Homo sapiens: one gene and its partners. The protein of the gene in region 1 interacts with the protein of each later gene in a biochemical or structural test. Each region holds a gene or a part of one and is shown on either strand. Other genes may lie near its edges. The genes, in order: MID1, PPM1A, STK36 and PTPA.

Region 1 (7,027 bases):
GAGCTGCCTTGGCCTCTCAAAGTGCAGGCATTACAGGCATGAGCCACCAGCCCAGCCTAAGCTTTTCTTTGATATGTACAGAAATAGATTTCTAAAACAAAAGCCAGCTAACTATAGCTCAAGGGCCAAATCTGGCTGCCTGATTTTGTAAATAAAGTTTTATTAGCATATAGCCACACCCATTCATTTACCTATTGTCCTGTCCGTGGCTGCCCCCTCACTATAGCAGAAGAGTTGAATAGTCACAAAAGAGACCACATGGCCTGGCCTGCATAGCCAAAAATATTTACTGTCAGGCCCTTTGCAGAAAAAGTATGCTGGTCCGTGACCTAAAAAGAAAGGATTTTAGAGGTGCTGGTGTTGTGTTGTGTTTGTATCCAAAAGGCAACTGGAAATCCTTTGGCCTACCCACATGTGACAACACACACTGTCCTATACTCACTGGGTCAGTTTCTCGCCCAGCATCGTGTATTGCCACAGTTGAATTTACTAGACCTTTTCCTGTGATTGAGAGCTGTATACTGGGCAGAAGGAACCTGCCAACTGCAACAGTGACTGTGGAGTTTGGACACCATGGCATTTGTATCAGGTTGCAATGCATTTCCTGCCTTTAAACGCCTTGTACCCAATGCAGTGTTGAATGACAGGCAGTACTCCAAACCAATATTGAATTGTCAAAGAAGAAGTAACAACTATGACAAAATGTCCAGGTGTGACTCTGCCAAGATTTTTTTAATACTTAAATCTTTAAGACACAAATGTGAGTAATGAAATAGAGAAGGCCTTATTATATATAAATAATTTCATGAGTAGAAAACCCAGGCATTGCTATCACATTTTTTCCTAATTTTGTGGCCTGAAAATTGTATTCTCATCCTAAATTCCTAAGAGTAATGCTTTAATTTTTAATAATCTCAGAATAATATAAACCTCTAGAATATTCTATATGTTAAGACCCAAGATCTTGATTTGTTTGGTTTCTGGTCTGAAGTCTATTGAGCATGAATGCATCTTATGCTGGATAGAACACTGCAGTGGTTGAAAATGGAGTCTTCATTCATTCCTCCTTTTCAGGATGCTATCCAGCCAGTATGTACCTGTGCTGCTTGTATACACCTGGAATCCGTGAAGCTAGCTCACCCTATGTTTTCTGGCTAAGCCTTATCCATGCTGTTGTTGAATAGTTGGCATGCCACCACTGGATCCCTATCTTAGAACTGGTAGACTGAAAGCTTATGAAGACAGGAACATGTTCTTTTTCACTCTTACTGTGTACTGTACTATACACAGAGTTGCTGCTCTCTATTGTCTTTTGAATATTATGAAAACTTTGCAAGCAAATGTCTTTGAAAGTTGCTTATAATGTTTAAATTACTATTAAAATATAAGATACCACTTTGTGATAGGAGGCATGACTCAGGGAGGGCTGGCTTGTTCCTGTCTTTTAAACCTGATTTTGAAAATATGCTATTGGTTATGATAAAATAAACAATCCTCTTCCTCTTCCTTTTTCTGTTTTGTGAATTTGTTTTCAGGCCAACCATTTAAACTGGATCCCAAATCTGCTCATCGAAAACTGAAGGTGTCCCATGATAACTTGACAGTAGAACGTGATGAGTCATCATCCAAGAAGAGTCACACACCTGAACGCTTCACCAGCCAGGGGAGCTATGGAGTAGCTGGAAATGTGTTTATTGATAGTGGCCGGCATTATTGGGAAGTGGTCATAAGTGGAAGCACATGGTAAGCAACTTATTTCTATTGTCCTGCAGTTATAAAAAGGCACATCTCATTCTGTACTTAGAGAGTCAACCCATACTGTAATGCATCTTAAAGAATAAAATGCAGAAAAGTTGTATTAGTCAGCTCTTGCTAGGATAATACTGCATAACAAACACCCCCAAACTCAGCAGATTCAAACAACAACCATATATTACTAATACCCACACCTGTGGGTTCTCTGTTCAAGATTATAGAGCTCTGATCATTGGATGAGCTATACCATGTTAACACTGCTCTTTCATGCCATGAAACATGGGTTGGCAAACCACAGCCCATGAGCCAAACCTGGCCTGCTACCTGGTTTTGTAAATAAAGTTTTATGGGAATACAGCCAGGTCCATTTTTTTACATATAGTCCATGGCTGCCTTTCAGCCACAACAGCAGAATCGAGTAGTTAAGAGAGAATCATATGGTCTACGAAGCCAAAAATATTTACTTACTTTCTGGTCCTTTCCAGAAAAAGTTTGCCATTCCCTACTTTTAAACATCACTCTTCATCATTACACAAAACTAATTTCTGTTGCCTTGTATGTTTTATGGTTCTAGACTGGACCAATTAGTGCAAATAGCTAAGGGTTGAATGGTGGGGGTGAAGCAGTGATCATAGGCTGGGAATAATTTCAAAAGGCCTGTTAGATCCAGCCCAGTGACTTTAGCCCACTGAGTTCTCTAAGAATAAGGGCAAAGGTCAGGACACAATTACATTGGAATTAGTTAACCTCACAAAGTTAACCTTGCCTAATCCACAGCCACAACTGCACCCCTTTGACCGTCTGTCTCACAAATGCCTGCTTGCTATTGATCAAAAAGGGAGCTATTTTATTTTTATTTAACAAGCCCTCATATGGTACAAGTATGTGCCAGGCACTGGTCTAAGCATTTTACAGATGTCAACTCATTTATTCAGCCTTACAGCCCTACAAAGGTAGGTGCTAATATTATCCACTTTACTGATGAGGTGACTGAGGTATATGCTGAAGATCACAGGGTTACAAAGCTCACAGGTGGCAGAGTCAGTAAGTCTGCAGTCAAGGGTCAGGCTCTTAACCAGCAGTCCACAAACATTATCTGTAAAGGGCCAGAGATTCAATATTTCTGGTTTTGCATGCCAAATGATTTTTGTCACTAATACTCGACTCTTCTGTTGTAGTGGGAAAGCAGCCACAGACAACACCTACACAAATGGACATGGCTGCGTTCCAATAAAACTTCATTTATAAAAACAGGCAGAGGGCCAGAGTTGGCCCCTGGGTAGTAGTTTGCTGTTCCCCGCTCTTAACCACCATGGTATGCTGCTATTCACAAAAGGGTGGTATATTTTTGAAATGCTATAATTACTCTCTAGGGTTTATGACAGTGTACGTAATGAGTGATAGCTGAATCCTTGCTTTAAAAAATAAAATCAACATTCAAAATTGCATAGCCTGAAGATGGTGAGTATAACAGTGTTTCTTTCAATATAAGCATGATAAAACACTTATTTATATATAAAAAAACCTTTCAATTCAAACCTATGCAAATAATGTGACATGGCTGAGTCCTTTATATTGTAGGTAGAAATTAGCCAAAAATCTAAGAAGTGAATTGTAAGCTTCCCATCTCTCCCAATAATGGTACATACTATATTGGCTGAGCGAGTAGGTTTTCCTTTGTTGCTATCCTCATAATTCTCTTTGCCTAGAAGAGTTTTCTGTTCCAACATCCTGCCAGAGGATGGAGGACAAATCCTTCACCCCACTAGGCTCTGGGCTAGATTGGCATTTGCAATTTTTAGCTGCAGTGGGGCAAAATTAAAGCACAAAGGAAAACACAATGGATGCAGGTACAAAAAAAGCAAATGTTTCTAGTTAATTAATGTGCTGTATTAATCTGGGATAGAATCCAGGGTCTAAATGATTATTACTCTATTAATAATTAATTATGATAAATGAAACCTGATCATTATGATCTCATTGCCATTGATGAATAGTTTGCAAAATTCCATCAGACCACTTCAGTTATATAAACACACATCAGCATTACCTTGAAAACACCCTCCAGATGTCAAAACTAACTCATGAGGGGGAAAAGAAATTCTAAAATTAATTGCTACACAATTAATCTTTACAAACCTGACGGTGTCAATTTCAGAAAAATCTTCATGTAGAAAGTCACTTTACATTTCCTTGGGGGGTATTAGCAAGGAAGGGGCACCCCCTACGATTAAATGCCTGTGACATCTTGACTTGCAACAGCTAATGACATATTTGCTTATGAAATATAGTCCTGACTTTAAATTGATGTGTACATTATGATCTGTGCAATGGGGCACGTTAACATTGCTCCGAGAGACATAATTTTTATACTTTGAATTCTCCGTGTCTCACTGCGTAACTTAATGGAACATTACATTCTGCCTGCACATTTCAAGCTCAATGGAAATATGTACCTAGTTTCACAGATTAATGATACTATAATGGTATTTTCCTTTGCTTAATGGACTATACACTTAGTATTTTCTTACTCTCTAATGCTAATGTGCACTTGGTGTTTTATGAAATGGTGTTAACTAAATGAGTAATAACGGGTTCATGCAAAGATTATTAGACCAGAAGGGGTGGGGGCAGCATACAACTCTGGATTTTGCTCCCAATTTTAATCTTCTGTTTCTACTTGCTACATGTAGTCAGCCATACCTGCCACAGCTATTTCATAGGGTTCAGTTAAGGTTCAAATGGGAAATAAACATCAAAGTAATAAAAAATAAAAATGCTGTGCCACAACAAGAAGGAAACAATACAGATGTGGTGATTTTGTGATGCAGGTTCCAAATTGTCTGAAAAGCGGAAATAGTATTCACTGGGGTATACAGAACATTTTTGGGGGGTGGGAGATACTGACAATTGCAAAATGAAAACCTTTCCAAAATGTATGTATTAGTCTGTTTTCATGCTGCTGGTAAAGACATAACCAAGACCAGGCAATTTGCAAAAGAGGTTTATAATGGACTTACTTACTTACAGTTCTATGTGGCTGGGAAAGCCCACAATCATGGCAGAAGGCAAGGAGGAACAAGTCCCGTCTTACATGGATGGCAGCAGGCAAAAAGAGAGCTTGTGCAGGGAAACTCCCCCGTTTTAAAACCATCAGATCTCATGAGACTTATTCACTATCACGAGAACAACACTGAAAGGACCTGCCCCCATGATTCAATTTCCTTCCACCGGGTCCCTCCCACAACATGTGGGAATTCAAGATGAGATTTGGGTGGGGACACAGCCAAACCATATCAGTGTATCAAATAAACAGATGACATTTGAGACCCTCGATGCATGCCACAGAAGGGAGCCAGAAGCTTACAGGACCCTGGAAGGGCTGGGGCATGAAGTCAGGGAGTCTGCTGCTCTAGTTCATGGAGTCATGATGAGCTGTAGCTGCTGCAAAGTTGCCCACAGCACAAGGCAGGTGTACTCAGGCGCTCATCTAGAAGCTTCCACCAACCGCACGTCTACTGTCTGCCATCAGGAAAGCGTGTTTCCCCTCCTCTAAGCACTTCTGGATCTTGTGCAAAGGCATCACAATAGCAGAGCCTGACCCAGACTCCTACAGGAAAGGGGATTCTGGGAAATGCAACTTGGATTCTCCTCATAAGCAGGAGAGGATGGACGGGAGGGAAGAGAGGATGCAACATTGATGACAGACAGGCCTGCACACTGGGCTTGGCAGATTATCAATTCCATCCTTCTTTTGGATTTAGTGATGGCATGTTGTGTTAATTTTCTTTTTAAACAAACACACCACTCTTAAAGTGATTGTATTTTAAGTCCAGTGTGATTTTTTTTAAAGAATGTCATTTTATTAAAGACCCATGAAATTTTTCTCTCTGCATTGGGTAAGGTACCATATGTTAATATCCAATTAGACTGGTTTCTGCTATAACATATTAAAAGTTCAACTGTGAGTCATTTACTCTTTATAAAGAGTGATGGGTTTTGTTTATCTTAATAACTGAAATACGATGAATATTACAGAGGCATGACTCAGAGGGGTAAAAAGAGATTAAGATGCTTAGAACATTGTAGAAAGCATTCTTTGGATTTTTTTGAGCAGCAAGAGAACATTTAGAATAACCAGAAGATCCGTCTGCTCAAACACGTTCAGAATTTTTTTTCCAGTATAATCAGAAAGGCTCTTGGCAGTGATGAACTGCACAATTTCTGGTTACGGATGGCATTGTAGAATGTAGTTCGTGTTTGTGGGTTTTGAGTCATCCTGAGTTCAAATTCTGATTCTGGTACTTATTGTTAATATGTGCCATCAGGCAATAATAATAAAATAAATAGCAGTTACTGAATATTACATGCCAGGTCCTGTGCCTGGGACTTAACATGTATTCTCTCCTTTACTCCTTAAAATAACACTGTATATTTCTCAATATACATGAGAAAATTGGGGCTGAGTAATGACAAAGGATTTATCCCTGCAAATGGGAATCATCTTCTGTGCTTGCCCTTGGCAAAGTGCATTCAGAATCAGAAAATGACAGACATGGTGTTAAATGAAAAATTATAAGAAGGTCAAAAGGAGAAGTCTAGGGTTGTGCTGTCCAGTATGGTAGCTATGAGCCACAGGCAGCTATTTAAATCATTTAACTTAATGAAAATTAAATAAATTTAAAGTTCAGTTCCTCAGTCTCACCAGCCGCAGCTAAAGTGCCCAGTAGCCATATGTGGCTTGTGGTTACCATATCGAGGAGAGCAGAACATTTCAGTCATTGAAGAAAGTTCTTTTGGTCAGCACTGGTCTAGCGAATTCATTGTGTAGATTTTTATAAGAGTGAAAAAAAGCAGCAAAACTCAAAGTTCAAATTCTCCGTAGTGTTTGAGCTGAAAACAGAAATGTGGGTAAATACGACGCTTCTTTCCACCCACTACTTTCCACCCACTTTCCATGTTTGGGAGGGAAGGAGATGAGGAACACAGATGTTGGGGTTCTTGCCAAGCTTTCACTTAAAGAAAATGAACAGGGACAACAAATGATCATGTTTTTATAACCCCTGAGGACCACAGAACGGATTTAACGTGCATGTGCAACATGGCTCATTGTTTTTGTTGTTGCTGTTTTGTTTCCGCAGGTATGCCATTGGTCTTGCTTACAAATCAGCCCCGAAGCATGAATGGATTGGGAAGAACTCTGCTTCCTGGGCGCTCTGCCGCTGCAACAATAACTGGGTGGTGAGACACAATAGCAAGGAAATCCCCATTG
Region 2 (7,027 bases), on another chromosome or scaffold:
CTTTAAGTTTTAGATGGAATTATGAAATATTCACTTTACGTTATTTTGTTACAATAATAAGTTTTATATTTCTTATTATCAAGCAAGAGTTGCCACCTGGACAGAGTTTACATTGATACTCAATATTTTTGATATGTTAAAGTGTTATTATACTTGTACCATTCAATTGGAGATTGTCATAAATTAAATATGGTATTTTTTACTCAGATTTGATGAGACTGCAACTAGAGAATAAATATTACATTAAAATTGCTGCTATTTTAAAACATAGAATGTAACTGTTTGTATTGTAAAAGTTGTGTGTCCTCAGTGAAAAATACTGCCTTCAGCTTCCAAAGCAGGCACCTGAATGCCTTTTTCTTTTCTCTCTCTCTTCTTTCTTTAAATACATGCCTTCACTAGATTGCTGTGACCTACTAAACCTCATTTTATTTGCTTGGAACATTTTTGGCTTCTCTGTCCACACCATAGAAAAGGACAAAGGCCTTCCAGCTCTCCTTTTCTCTTATTTGTTCCCTTCTAAATACTTGACTCTCTGGGGGTGTGAAAAGATTCAGCTCATAATTTATACTACTATTAATTTTGTGGTCCTTCTAAGCCAATTTAAAATTATACTTTTGTGTATATATTTTCAAAATCTTTGCTACTGACTACCTTAGCTTTAAAGTTGCTAATTTGGAGATGACTGATAGAATCCCTGAAACTTGGTGGAGGGGAGTGGAAAGGAGCAGAATGTGTTTGTGTATATGTATGTGAAACATGGATCTTCTATATATAAATATTCTTTAGAAAAAGCGTTCAGTCTTTTTACAATTCTAAGTAAAACGTATAGGTCAACAGAAATTAAAGGAATATTTCTTAAAATTCATTTATTTTTCTTTTTTGAAAGCAGACAGAAGCAAGGCTAGTATAGTATGAATGGTCAGGTAGTTTAAATGCGTTGTCCCACGTGGAACAGGAGATATTAACTGTTTTTAAAGCTTTACATTATTTTTTTACAAGAATTTGTTTTCCTGTAATTTTCTTCACAGTTAAAATATCCTAATTTATATTTTAACAAAAGAGATGTAAGATACATCAAATATAGATGATTCAAGGTAATGTTTTTTAGACCTGAAACTATTGATTCAATTTATCATCAGTGTTTATTTCTATTGTATCTAGTTATCTATCCAAATAATTGTATTGGCTTAGCGGAGACTGTATGTTAAGTGTATTAGTTTTAGATTGTGAAATTGTGCAGTTTAGGTAAACATCAAATCCCTTTATTTTTGTACAGCAGATTTCCAGCATTAGAACCATGTAGAACAAATATACTAGATGTTAAAGATTACACAATAAAGGAACTTGGCAAACCAAATCTGAGATCCTTGCTTTTTGTTCAGATTTAAGACTGTTTTTTTTTTTAAGGCAAAAAATAATAGATGGTAAAAATTTGGCCTTTATTCTAAAAGGACAGTTTGAACCATTTAAAGAAATATTATGGGTAGCCATGTCTTTAAAAATTTTGAGGCCTGATCAAAGGACGAATCTTTATACACATTGTTATTTTCAAAGGTATTTACAAATTGAGAAGCAGAATGATGATTTCTTGCCCCACTAATGACAAATAAAATACCATTTCTTACCATAAACATTGAAAAACAAACTGAACAAAACTTGACCATATAACTTACAAATACTTTTGACTTGAATTTGCATGTGGAGTATGTGTGCTAAAACTGCAAGTGAAGACTTTTTATACTTAGAGGAATAGTTGTAGAGTTCTTTGTAAGGTTCTTTGTTCATAATTTTTTATATTTTGTGATGTGAATAATAGTATGCATCTGCATGACAACACTGCAGATCATATTGCTGTGCCCTTTTAATAACTGGATATTTTAAAATTATTTTAAATGCAGTTGTATGGTTTATCAAATGGTTCTCTTTTTAAACATTTTATAAGGAAATTTAGACCTTTTCTATTCAAGGCTTTGTTGAAGTAATCAGTGAAGGAAATGGTATTATATATCTATACAGTATATTGTTTAAAGGTACTTTAGAGAAGAATTAAACTGAGACAGTGATGTTCAAGTACATAATCTGTGCATGCTATTTAAGTATCATTTTGCAAATATAAATATATACATAAAAATAATTGAGTTAGTATATAATCTATAAATTCCCCTATAATTAAGGGTTGTTATTTTCAAATCTTGAAATTGTTTATTTTTTAAAATTCCACGCAGTGTATTATATAGGGCAAAGTTCAGGAAACATGTTTCCAGTCTAAAGAGAGGAGTGATGTAAGAAGAAACTAGTTGACATCTTAAGAAAGGGTATTCTCACTTGTGCACACATATCCTTGATTATATAATATGCTGATTTAACATGAAATATTTTTTCACATTTTAATTTTGATTTGAAGTTAATCTTATATGTCATTTTGTGCATTTTTTGTCATAAATCTTCAAAGGTCAACCTGATTTTTTTTTTTTTTAAATGATACCAGATTAGAAAAATCTCAGATGTGGTAAATGCCATCTTTAAAAAGCTAGGTTATCTTTGTTTCGGTTTTCTTTTCAATTAAATTTGGATAACACTTACAAAAAAAGTACTTCTGATTCCCAGAAATCATAAAGAAGCAGGGGGAAGGCGTCCCCGACTTAGTCCATGTGATGCGCACATTAGCGAGTGAGAACATCCCCAGCCTCCCACCAGGGGGTGAATTGGCAAGCAAGTAAGTTACATTCTGTACACTCTTATGCTTTATGTCAGTGTATGAAAATGTTAGGTATTCATTGATAAAATGTTTGTTTGCCTAATTTCTGAACTGATGCAGTTATCTGTGTTTTAACCTGTGATTTCAATTTTTTTTTAGTATTAGAATATCTAGAGTTTGTTTAGACATAGGTATCAGTATCATTGTAACTAATTGCAGTGAGGGTTGTCTTTATTGGAAGCTTGGTTGGCATTGATTTCCTCATAGAGCATAAACGAGATAATATACTGAAAGAACTTTTTAAACTAAATTACATAGCACTACATAAAAATTTACAAAATTCTAAGTGTCGTTGTTAGTAGTAGTATAATTTGATTTGGTCAATCCCTGAGTAACTTAACACCCTGAAAATTCCCCTTCCTCATATGGACCATGTTTCTATGCCTGATTTTCCCAGTATTTTTGGTTGTTGATTGCTGGTTAGTTGGTTTTAGGTGTCAGGGAAGAAGATAGAATATATTTCTTGTCTTTTCCCTTTCCACTTTAGTTCATAGAATTGGACTACTTTGTGTTAAATATTAAGCTTACACCTTTACATAATAAAGTGGAAAATTCAAGCAATTCCAAGGGTTAAAACATTTTTACCTCAAATATCCATATAATTGACTTACAAACATAAAACTTGCAAATACCTTTAGCTTGAATTTGGATATAGAGTAAATGTGCTAAAACTACAAGTGAAGACTTCTTGTACTTACAGTGAAGATATATTATTGACTAATTTTCTCGATTCTCTACTGTGTTTTGCAAGTGTGACCATGTTCTTTGTAATCACTAAATAGTGATTGTAAAAGCTCCTGTTTGAAGCTTTTATTTTTTGGAAACTTTTTTTTTCCATATGACTTTCTATGAAACGATCTATAAAATTGCTTCAAGTCAATTTTGGAAGTAGGGAGACTATAACTTATAAATATACTACAGATTTTTAATAAAGTGTTACTCAAAACTAATTCCTAGACTTGTCATGGAAATGTCTTATTTGACATTTCAGTTTTAATAGAACTTTTGAAAAGGGCATTAAGAAAAGTAGAAGCTTAAATATAAAGTATAATCTGAGACTTCAAAACTACGATGCAACTCAACTAGCTTATGTTAGTATTATATCTTAAGAATGGCATTGCCATTGATGACTCATAACCATTTAAACCAATTCAAATGGAAGTAGACTATATAGACTTTTTTTTTAATCTGTAATTTTTAGCCTTCTATTAACTGGGTTGGTAGAGTGTTATAACACATTTTAGAGTAGACTCACCTCTGCTTTAACATAGGAGCCCAAATATCTTAAAAGTGAGGCTCACTATTGACAGCAAGAAATAGAACTAAAATAATATCTGAGTATAAGATTATCTTAGAAATTTTAATAAACACCTGGCTATGAGTTACTAAGCAATGTTTTGCTTTCTGAAGAATTAATTTTCTGCATTTTTTTACACTTAGGAGGAATGTTATTGAAGCCGTTTACAATAGACTGAATCCTTACAAAAATGACGACACTGTAAGTAGCATTTTAGCTCCCTCTGCTTTCCCTTCCCCTCCACTCTAAATGCATATCCTTCCTACCTGTTTTTGCAGAGCTGTTCACTGTACCCATTCTCTTACACACACCCCTGATTGATTGCTCTGAACTCTGCTTGCTCTGATCTCTGCCTGCACCACAGTTCTAGTGATTGAGGACATAATCATGGTGAGTGGCCACCTCTCTCAAAAAAGAAGAAAGTCCTTTTGAATTATTCTAGATTTTTTAAGTCTTTACAAACAATCAACTTCAGAAGGTTTGCCTCCACTACATGGTTTTTTTTTTTTTTTTTTCCCGAAGTTGGGACTATCTCTACTCAGAATATTGTCTTATTCTGAGTTTTGTAAGCAGCTGCAGCAGAACTTCGGAATGTCTGTCTCAACTAAATAGTTCTTATGGTTGGAAATACCTTTGTCAGGAATCCTGAAGTATATACTTCACTTAAATATTAGAGAATTGTTTGCATAAATAGACATTAGAATGCCATACTCTCCAGTTAAGTGTTCTGTTGCAATTCTGTTGTATGATGTTTATAGAAAAGTGATAACTTAAAGATCATGTGGGCACAGCTCTGAAATATTTTATGTATTGCATTATGAAGCTTCCTCACATATTGAGTTCTTAATCTTTTCTGATGCATTAAAGGTTTATAAAAGTGGTATTCTAAAACTGTATTGGATTTCATTAAAAAATTCTTTTTAGTAGATTTATTGATTGAGTAATACATTTGGACAGCCTCATCATAAAACCGCATTTCAAATATTTTCCAAAACAAAACAAAGGATTAACAATTCTTTGAACAGATTAAACATTGCTATTTCATATGTACACATATATACTTATATACTTTAAAAAACATTTATATTCTAAAAGTCATCTTTACAGAACATTATCTTTCTCCATTATCCAGAAAGTATGGTGTATTTTGGCACCGCTAAATTTTAACGTTGTTCCTTATTTTGCTTCCTTTTACAAAGGACTCTACATCAACAGATGATATGTGGTAAAACTGCTCATCTAGCCATGGAGTTTACCTTCACCTCCAAAGGAGAGTACAGCTCAACTTTGTTGAAACTTTTAACATCCATCCTCAACTTTAAGGAAGGGGATATGACATGGGTGAGAATGATTACATCAGAGAACTTCAGCAGTACAACAGCTAGCCCAGAACTGATTTTTTTTTTTTTTTTTGTAAATTTGAGACTTATGTAAGCGTGATTTCAAACCATAATTCGTGTTGTAAATCAGACTCCAGCAATTTTTGTTGTATGATTTTGTTTTTTTGTAAAGTGTAATTGTCCTTGTACAAAATGCTCATATTTAATTATGAACTGCTTTAAATCACTATCAAAGTTACAAGAAATGTTTGGCTTATTGTGTGATGCAACAGATATATAGCCCTTTCAAGTCATGTTGTGTTTGGACTTGGGGTTGGAACAGGGAGAGCAGCAGCCATGTCAGCTACACGCTCAAATGTGCAGATGATTATGGAAAATAACCTCAAAATCTTACAAAGCTGAACATCCAAGGAGTTATTGAAAACTATCTTAAATGTTCTTGGTAGGGGAGTTGGCATTGTTGATAAAGCCAGTCCCTTCATTTAACTGTCTTTCAGGATGTTCCTTCGTTGTTTCCATGAGTATTGCAGGTAATAATACAGTGTATTCATAAGAATCTCAATCTTGGGGCTAAATGCCTTGTTTCTTTGCACCTCTTTTCAAGTCCTTACATTTAATTACTAATTGATAAGCAGCAGCTTCCTACATATAGTAGGAAACTGCCACATTTTTGCTATCATGATTGGCTGGGCCTGCTGCTGTTCCTAGTAAGATATTCTGAATTCCATTTTATCAATAAAGCTTGATTTAACAAACAAGAAACTTAATCATGTATGTGTAATTCCTCTTTTACCCTGGCCTTTTAAAACACTGTGCCGTTGTAATGAGACGTTTCTCATAGGGAAAGATGTTAGTCTCTTTTAATTGGACAACACTGTCACTCAAGGCATAGATGAAACTTTCCTTCCATTAGAAAGACTAAAAGATTTAATTCTTGGTTGTACCTTAATCTATTTTTTAAATAGGTTTCTTTCAGGCTGCTTATTTTTCATTAAGATGTGTATCAGCTTGGATTTGCCTACTGTTTAATTAAAATATTTATTGTCAAAGTTTGACAATCTAACACTCTATGGTAGGGGTGTGTGTGTGTGTGTTTGTGAGTGTGTGTTTGCCTGTGATTTTTAATTGGCCCATGTCTTTAGAATCCAAGTGGTTAAGATGTATTTGTGATTTGAAATATAGCATGTTGATAATATTTAGCTGTTGGCCTTTACAAATAACTTTCAAAGCTTAAGGAATTGTAGATATAAAAATAACCTAATTTAATTTAGGCTTAAATTCCTCTGATTAAGCATGTGAAAGTAAGTTTTAAAATCTGTCGCATTGAAAAGATTACTGTTCCGTGCCCTTCTGTATTTTTGTCTCTTTAGGTTGAATATTGTATTTATCACCATGTAATCATTCAGTAGGCAGATTCCCACTAGAAAACTGTTGAAATGTAAGACTAAAATACAACATTGAATACAAAATCAAAATTTTGTGTATAAAAACCAGTATAGTCCATTTTGTTATATTTGTTTTTTCCCTAACTTGGAAATATACATATTTGTATATATAGCCTTAAAATTAATGTAAAGTTAGGGGAGTAGTGGGGAAAGTAATGTGAAATGTCTCAGATTTAAGTAGTTA
Region 3 (7,027 bases), on another chromosome or scaffold:
GTCTCCTCATTTTATGGATGGAGAAATCAAGGCCCTGGAAGCTTGTTCTAAGCCATCCAATGAGTTAAGGTTTTCCAATGCTTCCAGTTAGATTATAATTCTAACAGGTCTGACTAAAAGCCCTTTCTGGTAAATTGTACAATCTTTAAAATAGCTATCCTTCTACAGCAGCTTGGAGTCCCTACACATTAGAACTCCACTAAATATTAAAATTAGTCACTAAGTCTGAGCAACCTAATTGACCGCTCTGTTGAATCTTACCCTTTCCTATTTCAGCTCCACCGGCCTTGACTTGAAAGTAGGTAACCAAATATAGTTCATCTAGGAAGGGGGAAATTGGTAAAGGCAAGAAATGATATAAATAAGCTGCCAGACCAGGATCTTGTGTGAACACGATACCAGCACCTCCAACACCACATAGAAGCTGAAAGAGGGGTTGAGCCTCTCAACCCTTGTCCTGGGAGCTTCAAGTATGGTGAGGCACAACTTTTATTAAAAGAGTTTACAAACAGAACTATTAAACACACACACACATACACACACACATATACACACACACCCCAAAAAAAGATACACTCTCCACGCCCACCCACAGATAGGAATGTTGGCTAAGGGATAATCCCTCAATAACAGGGACTGATGGCATTGATCCCCACAGCCTAGAGCTGAGACAGGCTCTGTCTTCATCACTGTCCTGGGGCCAGCACGTCTAAGGCAAAAACCTGCTGGGAAGATTAAAGGAGCTCCAGAAAGGAAGAGATCTTTCAGGTTGAGGTTTTTCCCTAAGGTCCGTGAGGCAGGTCCCTAGAGTTAAAGGCACATTATTGGAGAAAAGGCCCCTGGATGTAGAGAAGAAAGGACTCTTCTCTGGCACCAACAGCAATAAAATTTACTGGTTGAAAACATCCTGCATCTGGGAGAAGGAAGAAGCTTTATATATAAATCTCTTCTAGTTTCTTGTTCTCAGTTGAGTTGGCAGCTTATCTCTTTTCTAGTCTCTTTAGCTCTCAGTTGAGTTGGCGGCTTGTGTAGTAGAATAAGAAAGAGCTGGCAACCAAAGTTGGAGGCTGGACCGCAGGAATCTGGAATCACATGCTATGGGCTGGCCTCAGGAGGTGAATGAGTTTCCTGCAGTGTTTGGCAGAGGCAGGCCTAGGACTGCTGTGTGGCAGTGACTGATTCCCCAGAGAGAGCAAGGATAGTTTCTCACTGGCACCCAGGGACACCAGTACCTGTAGGATAGAGAACAGATGATAGAACAGAACATGAGGCTCAGAAATGGTGGTGTCTGGGGCAGGTGCGGAGGACTCTCATTTACCCAGGAATTCCCACTCGAGAAGAGGAAGAAAAAGGAAATGGGCTCTTGGGGACTTGGAATAGACTGAATGGCAGAAGAGAAACCTTGGAGATAGGAATCATCAGGACCAGAAGTCTACTTCCATTCTCTTTGGTTATAGACCATGAAACCAAGGCACTAAGGGACACATATACTTGTCCCCAGGAAGACTTGATGAATGCAGCAGTAACTCACAGTAAGCCAAAAGGTCTAATTCCTAGCCTTCAATGCAGACCAGTGAGTTCTAACCTCATTACCACCAAGAATCCCATTAATTATTTTCCCCATGGATTGCACAAGATTCCTATAGGATCTTCACCATCGGCCAGGCAAGGTGGCTCATGCCTGTAATCCCGTACTTTGGGAGGCCAAGGCGGGCGGGTCACGAGGTCAGGACATCGAGACCATCCTGGCTATCACGGTGAAACCCCGTCTCTACTAAAAAAAAAAAAAATACAAAAAATTAGCTGGGTGTGGCGGCAGGTGCCTGTAGTCCCAGCTACTCGGGAGGCTGAGGCAGAATGGCGTGAACCCGGGAGGCAGAGCTTGCAGTGAGCCAAGATCGCGCCACTGCACTCCAGCCTGGGGGCGACAAAGTGAGACTCCGTCTCAAAAAAAAAAAAAAGATCTTCACCATCCTCTCAAATTTCTGCTCTGCATGAACTTCCCAATGCTACCACTTTGAGATGTCATAATTTATATTACCATATGTAGATATCTGTGATTTCCAATGGGCTTTTTTTTTTTTTTGAGACAGAGTCTCGCTATGTCACCCAGGCTGGAATGCAGAGGCATGATCTCCGCTCACTGCAACCTCCTCCTCCCAGGTTCAAGGGATTCTCTTGCCTTAGCCTCCCGAGAAGCTGGGATTACAGGCGCCTGCCACCACACCCAGCTAATTTTTGTATTTTTAGTAGAGACAGGGTTTCACTATGTTGGCCAGGCTGGTCTCAAACTCCTGACCTCAAGTGATCCGCCCACCTCAGTCTCCCAAAGTGCTGGGATTACAGGCAAGAGCCACAGAGCCTGGCCTACTGGACTCTTTATATACTGAAAATCGCGGTCAGGCAGGGTGGCTCACACCTGTATTCCCAACACTTTGGGAGGCTGAGGCGGGTGGATCACTTGAGGTCAGGAGTTCAAGACCAGCCTGGCCAACATGGTGAAACCTTGTCTCCACTAAAAATGCAAAATTAGCCAGGTAAGGTGGTGTGTGCCTGTAATCCCAGCTACTTGGGAGGCTGAGACAGGAGAATCACTTGAACCTGGGAGGCAGAGGTTGCAGTGAGCCAACATTGTGCCATTGTACTCCAGCCTGGGCAACAGAGCGAGACTCCATCTTAAAAATAAATAAGTAAATAAATAAATAAATAAATAATAAAAATACAAAGATTAGCCGGGCATGGTGACAGGCACCTATAGTCCCGGCTACTCAGGAGGCTGAGGCACAAGAATTGGCTGAACCTGGAGGCAGAGGTTACAGTGAGCTGAGATTGCGCCACTGTATTCTGGCCTGGGCAACGAGTGATATTCAGTCTCAAAAAAAAAAAGAGTGGCTCACGCCTATAATCCCAGCACTCTGGGAGGCCAAGGCAGGTGGATCACCTGAGGTTGGGAGTTCGAGACCAGCCTGACCAACATGGAGAAACCTGTCTCTACTAAAAATACAAAATTAGCCAGGCGTGGTGGCACATGCCTATAATGCAGCTACTCGGGAGGCTAAGGCAGGAGAACTGCTTGAACCCGGGAGGCAGAAGTTGTGGTGAGCCGAGATCATGCCATGCACTCCGGCCTGGGCAGTACGAGTGAAACTCTGTCTCAGAAAAAAAAAAAAGGAAAAAGAAAGTTGCGCAGAAGAGGAAGGATAAAGTAGTGGTTAAGAGTACGGGCTCTGGACTCAGACTTCTGAGTTCAAAAGCCCAATCCTACATACTGTCCTTGTAATTTGGACAAGTTATTAAATTATTTGTGCCTCAGTTTCCTCATCTGCAAAATTAGGATAATAATAGTTTAAACCAGATAATAAAGGTAAAATGCTTAGCATCGTGCTTTTCTCATGGTAAGTCTAAAAAAAAAATAGTCAGCACCTTCATGGCACACAGAGTAAAACTACTCTATCTCAGCATCTCTTAGTCTTCCCTCATCTCCCTCCTGCACAGCCTCTAGAAGAGATCAACTGTGGTCCTTGAGATCTCAGACATTTCCCAGCCCATTGGAGCCCTCTTCTAGCTCCCTTCCCTCCTCCAAGGCAGGAGATGTAACTAGAAAACTCACTCCAAGACACTGTCCCTGGGAGAAACACGGCATAAGTTTCTCCATGTCCCGATTCCAATTCCTTACAGATGATCTCAGAGAAATGTTGTCAACTATAGGGGCCCTGATCATCATGGTTCATAAGTGCTGTAGGGTATACCTGATGGATGCCAGGCTCCTGTTGCAGGCTCCGGAGGGCAATGAGGGCAGCCTCCTTCACATTTGGCTGGGGGTCTCCACATGCCATTTCTAGGAGCCGCTGGGGTACTTCGCACTGTAACAGCTCCTCTCCCAAACCTTCAGGTCCCAAGTTGCCCAGAGCTGATGCAACATTGCGCCGGATACCAGCCTGAGGATCTCCAAGCAGCTGGGTCATACTGGGCACTGCAGCTGCCAGGGCAGGTCCCAGAGGACCAGCCTGGTAGGCTGCATTGCCCACAGCAAAGCTGGCACTGCACCGCACAACAGGATCCTTGTCTCCAAGCCCAAGCAGCAGAAGGCTGAGCAGTCCAGACTGGCTCTGCAGTGCCCCACGCAGGGCCATGCTGTGTTGGAGCAAGTGTCCCAGGAGCCTATAAGTGTGTGCCCGCACAGAATTCTCTGGGTGGCCCAGGAGGCTGCGCAGGGGCCGATAGGATTCATCAGAGCCAGCCAGAAGCTCTTGGATAAAGGACAAGTGGCTGGGAGACAGGACCCTGGCAGTATGGGCCAGCAGAGAGAGAAGGTCGGAGGTCAACAGTGGCTGGTCACTCAGGAGGGCAACTGAGAGAAACGAGACGATGGTTCTAGGGGAGGCAGACACTGTGTTCACAAACTGGTTGAGAGAGGTGGGATCCATGAGGGCCAGGCGTGTGAGAAGGCTGATGGGCAGCTCCACTTGCATCAACGGAAGATGGTAGCAGCAGACCTGAGAGAACAGGAGGTAAAAGGATTCAGGGAGAGAGAGAGTATATGCAGCTATAAAGAAGCCCAAAACCTGGGAGAGAGAAAAGCCAAGCTATGGTGAGAAATGCCACAGAGAGCTGGAAGTCCTGCCCCACAGCACTCCACATGAGACACAACGTGGAGCCTGAGAGAGCAGGTTCTTTCCAAGATCATTCCTTACTTTGCAAGGGCTCAGTCTCTGCCTTCAAAGACCCACTGTGAAAAAACAAAAAGAAACAACAAAAGAACAAAGACCCACTGTGCAATGCCAAGAATTGCCAGAAACATGATTCCTGGCCAAGGAGGTGAGTCTTCAGTGCCTAGACTAGGATGTTCTCCCCAATGAGCACCAACAGAACCAGGTGATGGACTGATGGAGAGGAGGAGGCACCAACCCAGCTCCCACCACATGCCTCCACCACATGCGCAGGTCTGAGTACTGTCTCCACGCCAACTTTTGAGTCAAGCCAGCTGTTCCATGCTTACAGGGGCCTAGAAGAGCCCTGGAGCTGCTGGGAAGTAAATTAGAGGATACAAGGTTGGCTATCTTCCTCTCCCACCTTCATGCTAGCTGCCCAAGTACCTGCAGCAGATGGGCTGCAACTTCTGAGTCCCTGAGGTCGGCCAAGACACCTATAAGGAGGTCAGCATCCATGTCCAGCGCAAAGGGGAAGCAAAGGAGCTGGCAGACAGAGAGCACCACGACAGGGAGAAACTCAGACCCATGAGGCCTAAGGAGAGGAATGTCGAAGAGACTTGGTCTTGTTCACTTAACCTTTATCATTCCTCCCTCCCTCCTCCAATTCCTTTGCCCAACTCCCCTTCTACAGTCTCAGCCACTACTTAGGTTTCCAGCCTAAACCTGATCTCATCTTTCTTGCTTTATAGCTCAATCTGTCAGTAACTTCTTTCCTGCCTTCTTCTTTCTCCCTCCCCGTTGCTGACTCTGTGGCTCTCTTCTAGCTCAAACTCACGCCTGGCGCAGTTGATTCAGGAAGCTGGGGCAAAGCAGATGCTTCAGGATGGACATGAGGATACTTCCATGCTGGGACAGGCAGCTCAGGCATAACTGGGGCTCCTGGGTAAAGGTGGCCATGGCCAGGCTCAGCAGGGCTGCCATGCCTGGTAACACCAAAAATGGAGACCCAATGGAACAGGCAAGACGCCCAGATACCCCTGCTTCCCCACAGCTCCCAGGGCTACACCTATTCAGTCCCTTCCCCATCTTAGAGCAGCTCTAGTGCAGACACTGCTTCCTGTCCCCAGGCAAAAGCAAAAAAAATAAACCTCTGTGGGTTAACCCAGTTCTGGGCTGCCTCCTCTTGAAGAGAGATCAATGCACTCCCAAAAAGGATACTGATAGAAAGATACCCTGGGGAGAAATCAGTGTCCAGTCTGGCTCAGGGCTTGGTGGACTGGATAGCGAAAGCTCCCCTTCCTGTGCAGATGCCTCCTCGGGGAGCCTCAGGACCATGGAGAAGCGGTGCCACAAAACGGTCCACATTTCTGAACTGGACATATCCCTGATTAGGCTAGCCTTCCCCTGCTAGAGATAAAAGTGAAAGAGGGCGGGGGGAAAGACAGAAGTCAGGAATCCAAATGCTTTTATTCATTCCTGTCCCTGACTTACAAGTAAAGGAAGTCCCAGAAATAATTCCTTCCGCTTTCCCACCTAGTATTTCCCTGTCGTCTTATTTCATTTTCTTATCAAACCTTAACCCTCTGACCTCACAACTCATGTGTATGTCTGCTGAAACCCAGGGAATTCATTTTATCTCCCACTGGATCCCAGGGGACGCAGCGAATGGTTTCCTTCAAAGGGTCAGTACTGAGGGCAGGCGGGGAAGTTCCAAGGCTATCACAGGCACAGTAGCTTGAGAGGGAAGGCTGTGGGTTGCTTCTTCATTCCTCTGGTCCAGAGGCTCCCCAAAATGCCCAGTTCCTCTCTCTTTACTTCCCATCCATCCCAAGATCCATCTGTACCTCAGTGAGGAGCTGCAACAGAAGGATAAGGAGGCCATCATAGAATCCACAACTACCTGGTGGAGTCAACCGAACCTGTCAGAGAGAAACATGAAGAATGCAGGTGCCTAAGAGGAATGGGGTGTCCGTTAAACCAAGGCAGGTCAGTGATGGTGCCATGGAGGGAACAGATTTGAGAGTCAACCGGAAGGTAGAATATATGGGGCCTGGGGGAACCATTTCGGTGGGGGAATAATGGGGAAGAGAGAACAGTCACTGATGACTCCCAAAGTTCTGACTTAGACTTCTGGATGAGTGTTAGTGCTATCACTAGTGATACAACCTCTCTGAAGGCTAACTTAGTCTAGAAAAAGCAGATGAGTATTATTACATTGGTGTGTCTATATTTCAAGTGTGTTGTGGGATAACATGTGAAAATGTTTTATAAATTATAAAGAATTCAGCCACTGAGGTAGCTCACGCCTGTAATCCCAGCACTTTGGGAGGCTGAGGCGGGGGGATCAGGAAGTCAGGAGTTCCAGACCAGCCTGG
Region 4 (7,027 bases), on another chromosome or scaffold:
ACTTCTCTCTTTTTTAAAATTTCTTTTTTTTTCCCTGAGAAAAAGCCTCAGTTATTTCTTAAAATAACTATAGGCTACTATACTTTCTTCATAGAATTGTAGTATGTGTTTTATAAGATGTGTGCAAAGCATGGGACATAGTAGGCGATCAGTAAATGCTGATTGCCCTTATCTTTTTCAAAGTTTCAAAGTTGTACAGGTTGAACATGTAGACGAGTTTCAAATGGCCAATGATAATGCTATATATTATAGTCTTTGTTGGGGGGCTTAGGAAGGAACATTTCTAAAATTCTGAATGTTGATTTTATACTGTGAGGTTGTTGGGAATCCACTGTCCCTTGGAACCTATGTCTCTATAACCTGAGGCTGGAGAGACTGTGGGCGTGACCTCATTTATCACCATCCTGCCTTTGAAGGCTTGTTTCTTTGATTTGGGATTGTGTGTTCTGGCAACTTGTGTGTGTTTCATCAGTAATTTGTTATAGTGCTTCCTGGTAAGGTAGCCTTTTCCCAAACATGGACTGGCCTGAAGGCTCTCTTCCTGTGAAATATCCCGGTTAAATAATGTCAGGAGTGCCATCCCTTTTTTTATTTTTATTTTTTGAGACAGAGTCTCACTCTGTCACCCAGGCTGGAGTGCAGTAGCATGATCTTGGCTCAGTGCAACCTCCGAGGAGAGCTGTCCCTTTGCAGAGAATGGTGATCTCACACATATAAAAGGGCTGTATGTTCCCAAAGATTATTTCCAAGTTGATTATTTGGAATGTGGGACACATTTTCCCATAAAAGCAATGTGGTTGGGTTACTAGTCTGACCTACAAAGCTTTTTATTTGGCATCTTAGTTGAAGTGCCAATTTACTAATAGCAGTTTTGGGTTCTGGGAACAGAGCTTGCAGGACAGGTGGGAGGAGGAAGAGAGCTTCTGATCTCTTTCTGGGGCCTTGGTTTGAGTTAGGCAGAGATTTGTCTTTCTCTAAACTCAGGTTCTCTATCCTTCTCCTTAGGTCTCCAAGTCCCCTGGCACTTTTCTTTTCTTCAGTTCCTCTCCAGACAGGCTCTATTTCTCCAAATGTTATATGTTCCAGAAACTTCTTAGGTCCCTGTCCCTTTTTCTCCATGTAGCTGATGTCAGCCAGGTTTTAGGAGGAAGGCAGGGGGACAAATTTATACCAGGTTGTGAGTGATTGATGATAGTCCTTTACTCTTCCACTTTAGGGAGAGTTTGCATTTTTTTTTTTTTTGAGATGGAGTTTCACTCTTGTTGCCCAGGCTGGAGTACAGTGGCGTGATCTTGGCTCACTGTAACCTCTGCCTCCTGGGTTCAAGTGATTCTCCTGCCTCAGCCTCCCGAGTAGCTGGGATTACAGGTGCCCACCACCACGCCTGGCTAATTTTTTTGTATTTTTAGTAGATATGGGGCTTCACCATGTTGGCCAGGCTTGGTCTCAAACTCCTGACCTCAGGTGATCCACCAGCCTCCGTCTCCCAAAGTGCTGCGATTACAGGCCTGAGCCACCGCGCCTGGCCAACTGCCTCCTGGGTTCAAGTGATTCTTCTGCCTCAGCTTCGCGAGTAGCTGGGACTACAGGTGTGCGCTACCATGCCCGGCTAATTTTTTTTTTTTGAGACGAGTCTCGCTCTGTCGCCTGGTCTGGAGTGCAGTGGCGCGACCTCGGCTCACTGCAACCTCTGCCTCCTGGGTTCAAGCGATTCTGCCTGCCTCAGCCTCCTGAGTAGCTGGGATTACAGGCACTCGCCACCACGCCTGACTAATTTATTTTTTATTTGAGGCGGAGTCTCGCTCTGTTGCCCAGGCTGGAGTGCAGTGGCGCGATCTCGGCTCACTGCAAGCTCTGCCTCCTGGGTTCACGCCATTCTCTCACCTCAGCCTCCCAAGTAGCTGGGATTACAGGCATGCGTCACCTCGCCCAGCTAATTTTTTTTGTATTTTTAGTAGAGACAGGGTTTCTTTTTTTTTTTTTTTTTTTTGAGACGGAGTCTCGCTCTGTTGACCAGGCTGGAGTGCAGTGGCACGATCTTGGCTCACTGCAAGCTCCGAGTTCCATGTTCTCGCCATTCTCCTGCCTCAGCCTCCCAAGTAGCTGGGACTAAAGCACCCGCCACCATGCCCGGCTAATTTTTTGTATTTTTAGTAGAGACGGGGTTTCACCGTGTTAGCCAGGATGGTCTCGATCTCCTGACCTTGTGATCCGCCCGCCTCGGCCTCCCAAAGTGCTGGGATTACAGGCGTGAGCCACTGTGCCCGGCCACACCCGGCTAATTTTTGTTATTTTTAGTAGAGACAGGGTTTCGCCATGTTGACCAGGCTGGTCTTGAACTCCTGAGCCCAGGTGATCTGCCCACCTCTGCCTACCAAAGTGCTGGGATTACGGACATGAGCCACTTCACCTGGCTAATTTTTAAATTGTTTGTAGAGATGGGGGTCTCCCTGTGTTGCCTGGGCTGGTCTTGAATTCCTGGGCTCAAGCGATCCTGCCGCCTGGGCCTCCCAAAGTGCTGGGATTACAAGTGTTAGCCACTGTGCCTGGTCTAGATTTTCTTCTTTCTACAAGTTATGAAAATTTCCATTATGTGGGCATATAATTAATTACACATCATCTTATCAACTGATATTTGGGTTGTTTCTAATTTTTTTTTGTTTTCAAGACAGGGTCTTGCTCTGTCACCCAGGCTGGAGTGCAGCTCACTTCAGCCTCAGCCTCCTGGGCTCAAGTGATCCTCCCGCCTCAGCCCCCGAATAGCTAGGACTACAGGTGTGCACCACTACACCTGGCTAATTTTTGTATTTTTTGTAGAGATGGGGTTTGGCCATGTGGTCCAGGCTGGTTTCAAACTCCTGGACTCAAGCAATCTGCCTGCCTCGGCCTCCCGAAGTTTTGGGATTATAGGCGGGAGGCACTGTGCCTGGCCTAGATTTTATTCATTTTATAAGCTATGAAAATTTTTATTATGTGGGCCTATCTTTTTTTTCTCTTTTTTAAATTTGAGACGGAGTCTTGCTGTGTTGCCCAGGCTGGAGTGCAGTGGCGTGATCTTGGCTCACTGCAACCTCTGCCTCCTGGGTTCAAGCGGTTCTTCTGCCTCAGCCTCCCGAGTAGCTGGGATTACAGGTGTGCGCCACCATGCCTGGCTAATTTTTTGTATTTTTAGTAGAGGTGGAATTTCGCTATGTTGGCCAGGCTGGTCTTGAACTCCTGGCCTCAAGTGATCCACCCGCCTCGGATTCCCAAAGTGTTGGGATTACAGGTGTGAGCCACCACACCCAGCCTCTTTTTTTTTTTAAGACAGTCTCACTCTGTCACCCAGGCTGGAGTGCAGTGGAACGGTCCAGCTCACTGCAAGCTCTGCCTCCCCAGTTCAAGCGATTCTCCTGCTTCAGCCTCCCAAGTAGCTGGGATTACAGGTGTGTGCCGTCATGTCAGGCTAATTTTTGTATTTTTTAGTAGAGATGGGGTTTCAATATGTTTCCCAGGCCTGGTCTGGAACTCCTGACCTCAAATGATCCACCTACCTCAGCCTCCCAAAGTTCTGGGATTACAGGTGTGAGTCACCATGCCGGACCTGGGCATATCATTATTTACCCATTGTCTTATCAACTGATATTTGAGTTGTTTCTTTTTTTTTTTTTTCCCCCGAGATGGAGTCTTGCTCTGTCAACCAGAGCTGGAGCGCAATGGCACGATCTCAGCTCACTGTAACCTCTGCCTCCTGGGTTCAGGCAATTCTCCTGCCTCAGCCTCCTGAGTAGCTAGGATTACAGGTGTGCGCCACCACACTTGGCTAATTTTTGTATTTTTAGTAGAGATGGGGTTTCACCTTGTTGGCCAGGCTGGTTTCGAACTCCTGATCTCGTGATCTGCCTGTCTTGGCCTCCCAAAGTGCTGGGATTACAGGTGTGAGCCACCACGCCCAGCCTATTTGGGTTGTTTCTAATTAATAAAAAATTTTTTTATTTGAGTCAGAGTTTCACTCTTGTTGCCTAGGCTGGAGTGCGATGGCACGATCTTGGCTCACTGCAACCTCTGCCTCCTGGTTCAAGCAATTCTCCTTCCTCAGCCTCCCAAGTAGCTGGGATTATAGGCATGCGCCACCACACCTGAATAATTTTATATTTTTAGTAGAAATGGGGTTTCACTATGTTGGTCAGGCGCATCTCCAACTCCTGACCTCAGGTGTGATCCACCCACTTTGGCCTCCCAAAGTGCTGGGATTGTAGGCATGAGCCACCGCGCCCCGCCTAAAATTTTTTTTTTTTTAAAGTAGAGATGGGGTCTCGCTGTGTTGCCCAGGTTGGTGTCAAACTCCTGGACTCAAGTGATCCTCCCACCTGGGGCTCCCAAAGTGCTGAGATTACAGGTGTGAGCCACTATGCCCAGCTTTTTTTTTTTTTTTTGATGCATTAAACACCTTTGTGTTTCCGTGAGCACATCTGAAAGATAGATTCCTGTAAGTAGACCTGTTGACTCATTGTGTATATGCAGTTTTTTATTCCAAAAGATTGTCCCCTTAGGAGGTCCTTCCCACCCACAGAGCGGGAGAATTCTTGTTTCCTCTTCCTGGAATCTTGTTTTGTTTTTATTGAGACAGAGTCTCGTTCTGTTGTCCAGGCTGGAGTGCAGTGGTATGATCTCAGCTCACTGCAACCCCCACCTCCTGGACTCAGGTGATCCTCCTGCTTCAGCCTCCCAAGTAGCTGGGACTACAGGTATGCAACCACACCCAGCTAATTTTTAAATTTTTTTTGTAAAGATGGCGTTTTGCCAAGTTGGCCAGCCTGGTCTTGAACCCCTGGCCTCAAGTGATCTGCCTGCCTTGGCCTCCCAAATTGCTGGGATTAGGTATGAGCCACCACACCTAGCCAGATGTTTTTAATTTGCCAACCTTATCCAGAAAGAGAAATCACATATAATTTACGTGTCCGTGCTTATTCAGGAGGTTGGCAATTTATTCCAAATGTTTACTGCAATTAGGTTTTTTTTTTTTTTTTGAGACGAAGTCTCGCTCTGTTGCCTGGGTTGGAGTGCAGTGGTGCAATCTCGGCTCACCACAAGCTCCGCCTCCCAGGTTCACGCCATTCTTCTGCCTCAGCCTCCCAAGTAGCTGGGACCGCAGGCGCCCGCCACCACGCCTGGCTAATTTTTTTGTACTTTTTTAGTAGAGATGGGATTTCACCATGTTAGCCAGGATGGTCTCGATCTCCTTACCTTGTGATCTGCCTGCCTTGGCCTCCCAAAGTGCTGGGATTACAGGCGTGAGCCACCGCACCTGACCTGTTTTTTTTTCTTCTGTGAATTGCCTGTGTATGTCTGAAACATCAACTTGGTTTTATTTTTCTAACGGTTCTGCTCTGGGGGGGAGAGGGAAGGGAGGGCATGGTTATTGAAGGGATTGTCAGTATTGCCCTTCTCTTTCCTCCCCAGAGTGAGGGAGGGCAGGAGGCTGTGGGTTTGGCTTAACAAGCCCTTACTCTGTCCTGGAAGTATGTGTCTGGTTTATTCTAAGGCTCAGGTGTTGGAGTCCTGGTTTAAAAGTGAGAGAGAGGCCGGGCGCTTTGGCTCATACCTGTAATCCCAACACTTTGGAGGCCAAGGCGGGTGGATCACCTGAGGTCAGGAGTTTGCGATCAGCCTGGCCAACATGGTGAAACCCCGTCTCTACTAAAAATGCAAAAATTAGCTAGGCATGGTGACATACGTCTGTAATCCCAGCTACTCAGAACACTGAGGCAGGAGAATCGCTTGAACCCGGGAGGCAGAGGTTGCAGTGAGCTGAGATCGCGCCACTGCACTCCAGCCTGGGCGACAGAGCGAGACTCTGTCTCAAAGAAAAAAAAAAAAATTAGCTGGGTGTGGTGGCACGTGCCTGTAATCTCAGCTACTCAGGAGACTGAGGCAGGAGAATCGCTTGAACCCTGGAGGTGGAGGTTGCATTGAGCCAAGATCGTGTCACTGGACTCCAGCCTGGGCAACAAGAGCAAAACTCCGTCTCAAGAAAAAAAAAAAAGGTGAAAGGGAGTGTGTGTGTTGTAGGGGAGGATTCTATTTATCTGTTTGTTTTTTCATTTTTTTTTGTCAAGATTCTTCAGAGGAGGCCCCTCCAGCCACTCAGAACTTCATCATTCCAAAAAAGGAGATCCACACAGTTCCAGACATGGGCAAATGGAAGCGTTCTCAGGTACCATTTGGAACTGTGGTGAGAAACTTGGGCTTTTCAAAGACAGTGGTTTTCCTAGCATGACGGGCGGTGAGTTCCTGGCCCTTCTTGCTCTTGGAGCCTGACTTTTCAGAAGCTAGGGAGAAAGGTGACAGGGGAGCTGGCTGTCTCTTCCCTTCAGAGGCAGTACTCAGAGATGCTTTATCAGGAAGGTTGCCTACTTTTTCAGGCTGCTGCCAGGGTAGCCCGGGAGAGTTCCGCTCCTGGTTCTCTTAAGCCATTGCCCCTTGAGTGTTGCTGTATTGGCTGAACATGAGTGTTTGAAATGATGGAGCGAGTCACTTTGATTCTTGGCTGCAAGTAACAGCAAGTGTGGCAGCCAGTGCCTCAAGGGGAGAAGAGGCTATCTCATGGAAACTTTGGCCAGGGATATGGCTAAGCCTGCAAATACCTGGGAGCTGGGACCCAGAGCACTGGGCACAGACTGGCTTTCTCTGCTGCTCAGCTGAAATGATGGGCAGAAGATAACTACTTGTACCTCTCAGGCTTGTGGTACAGGCTGTGGAAAGACAGACTGAGCAAAAGAAAGCCAATTTCAATTTCTCAGGGAAGGCCTCTGGCCCAGTTCTCGTCAGGCTCCTGCTCCCGGCCTGGTGAGCTGGGCTGGAGAGTGTTGCTCATGCAGAAGGCTGGGCACAGGGGTCCTTGCATGCTGGGCAGATTCTCCAGGAGACCCACACCCTACAGCTTCTATGCCTTGTCCTCACTGGGGCTTGGGGCCATCTAAACCTGTCTGATTCCTTTTTCACAAGCCTGCCCTCTCAGTATTTGGAAATAGTTATCATGTCTTTT

What was found.
Region 2: the proteins of MID1 (region 1) and PPM1A form a complex in vitro, tested with the Homo sapiens proteins (one study listed by BioGRID).
Region 3: of the proteins of MID1 (region 1) and STK36, one has a biochemical effect on the other in vitro, tested with the Homo sapiens proteins (one study listed by BioGRID).
Region 4: of the proteins of MID1 (region 1) and PTPA, one has a biochemical effect on the other in vitro, tested with the Homo sapiens proteins (one study listed by BioGRID).

Annotation. Positions count from the first base shown.
Region 1 is NC_000023.11:10,449,586-10,456,612, reverse strand, and holds part of MID1 (E3 ubiquitin-protein ligase Midline-1), read left to right. Parts: intron 1-1,535; coding exon 1,536-1,743; intron 1,744-6,896; coding exon 6,897-7,027. UniProt on the Homo sapiens protein: Has E3 ubiquitin ligase activity towards IGBP1, promoting its monoubiquitination, which results in deprotection of the catalytic subunit of protein phosphatase PP2A, and its subsequent degradation by polyubiquitination.
Region 2 is NC_000014.9:60,287,196-60,294,222, forward strand, and holds part of PPM1A (protein phosphatase 1A), read left to right. Parts: exon of another isoform or gene 1-1,360; intron 1,361-2,610; coding exon 2,611-2,719; intron 2,720-4,201; coding exon 4,202-4,259; intron 4,260-5,257; coding exon 5,258-5,287; 3' UTR 5,288-7,027. UniProt on the Homo sapiens protein: Enzyme with a broad specificity. Negatively regulates TGF-beta signaling through dephosphorylating SMAD2 and SMAD3, resulting in their dissociation from SMAD4, nuclear export of the SMADs and termination of the TGF-beta-mediated signaling.
Region 3 is NC_000002.12:218,696,071-218,703,097, reverse strand, and holds the end of STK36 (serine/threonine-protein kinase 36), read right to left. Parts: intron 6,572-7,027; coding exon 6,497-6,571; coding exon of another isoform or gene 6,464-6,496; exon of another isoform or gene 6,101-6,463; intron 6,060-6,100; coding exon 5,885-6,059; intron 5,636-5,884; coding exon 5,488-5,635; intron 5,245-5,487; coding exon 5,097-5,244; intron 4,497-5,096; coding exon 3,750-4,496; intron 1,233-3,749; coding exon 1,089-1,232; 3' UTR 383-1,088; downstream 1-382.
Region 4 is NC_000009.12:129,114,415-129,121,441, forward strand, and holds part of PTPA (serine/threonine-protein phosphatase 2A activator), read left to right. Parts: intron 1-6,098; coding exon 6,099-6,196; intron 6,197-7,027. UniProt on the Homo sapiens protein: PPIases accelerate the folding of proteins. It catalyzes the cis-trans isomerization of proline imidic peptide bonds in oligopeptides. Acts as a regulatory subunit for serine/threonine-protein phosphatase 2A (PP2A).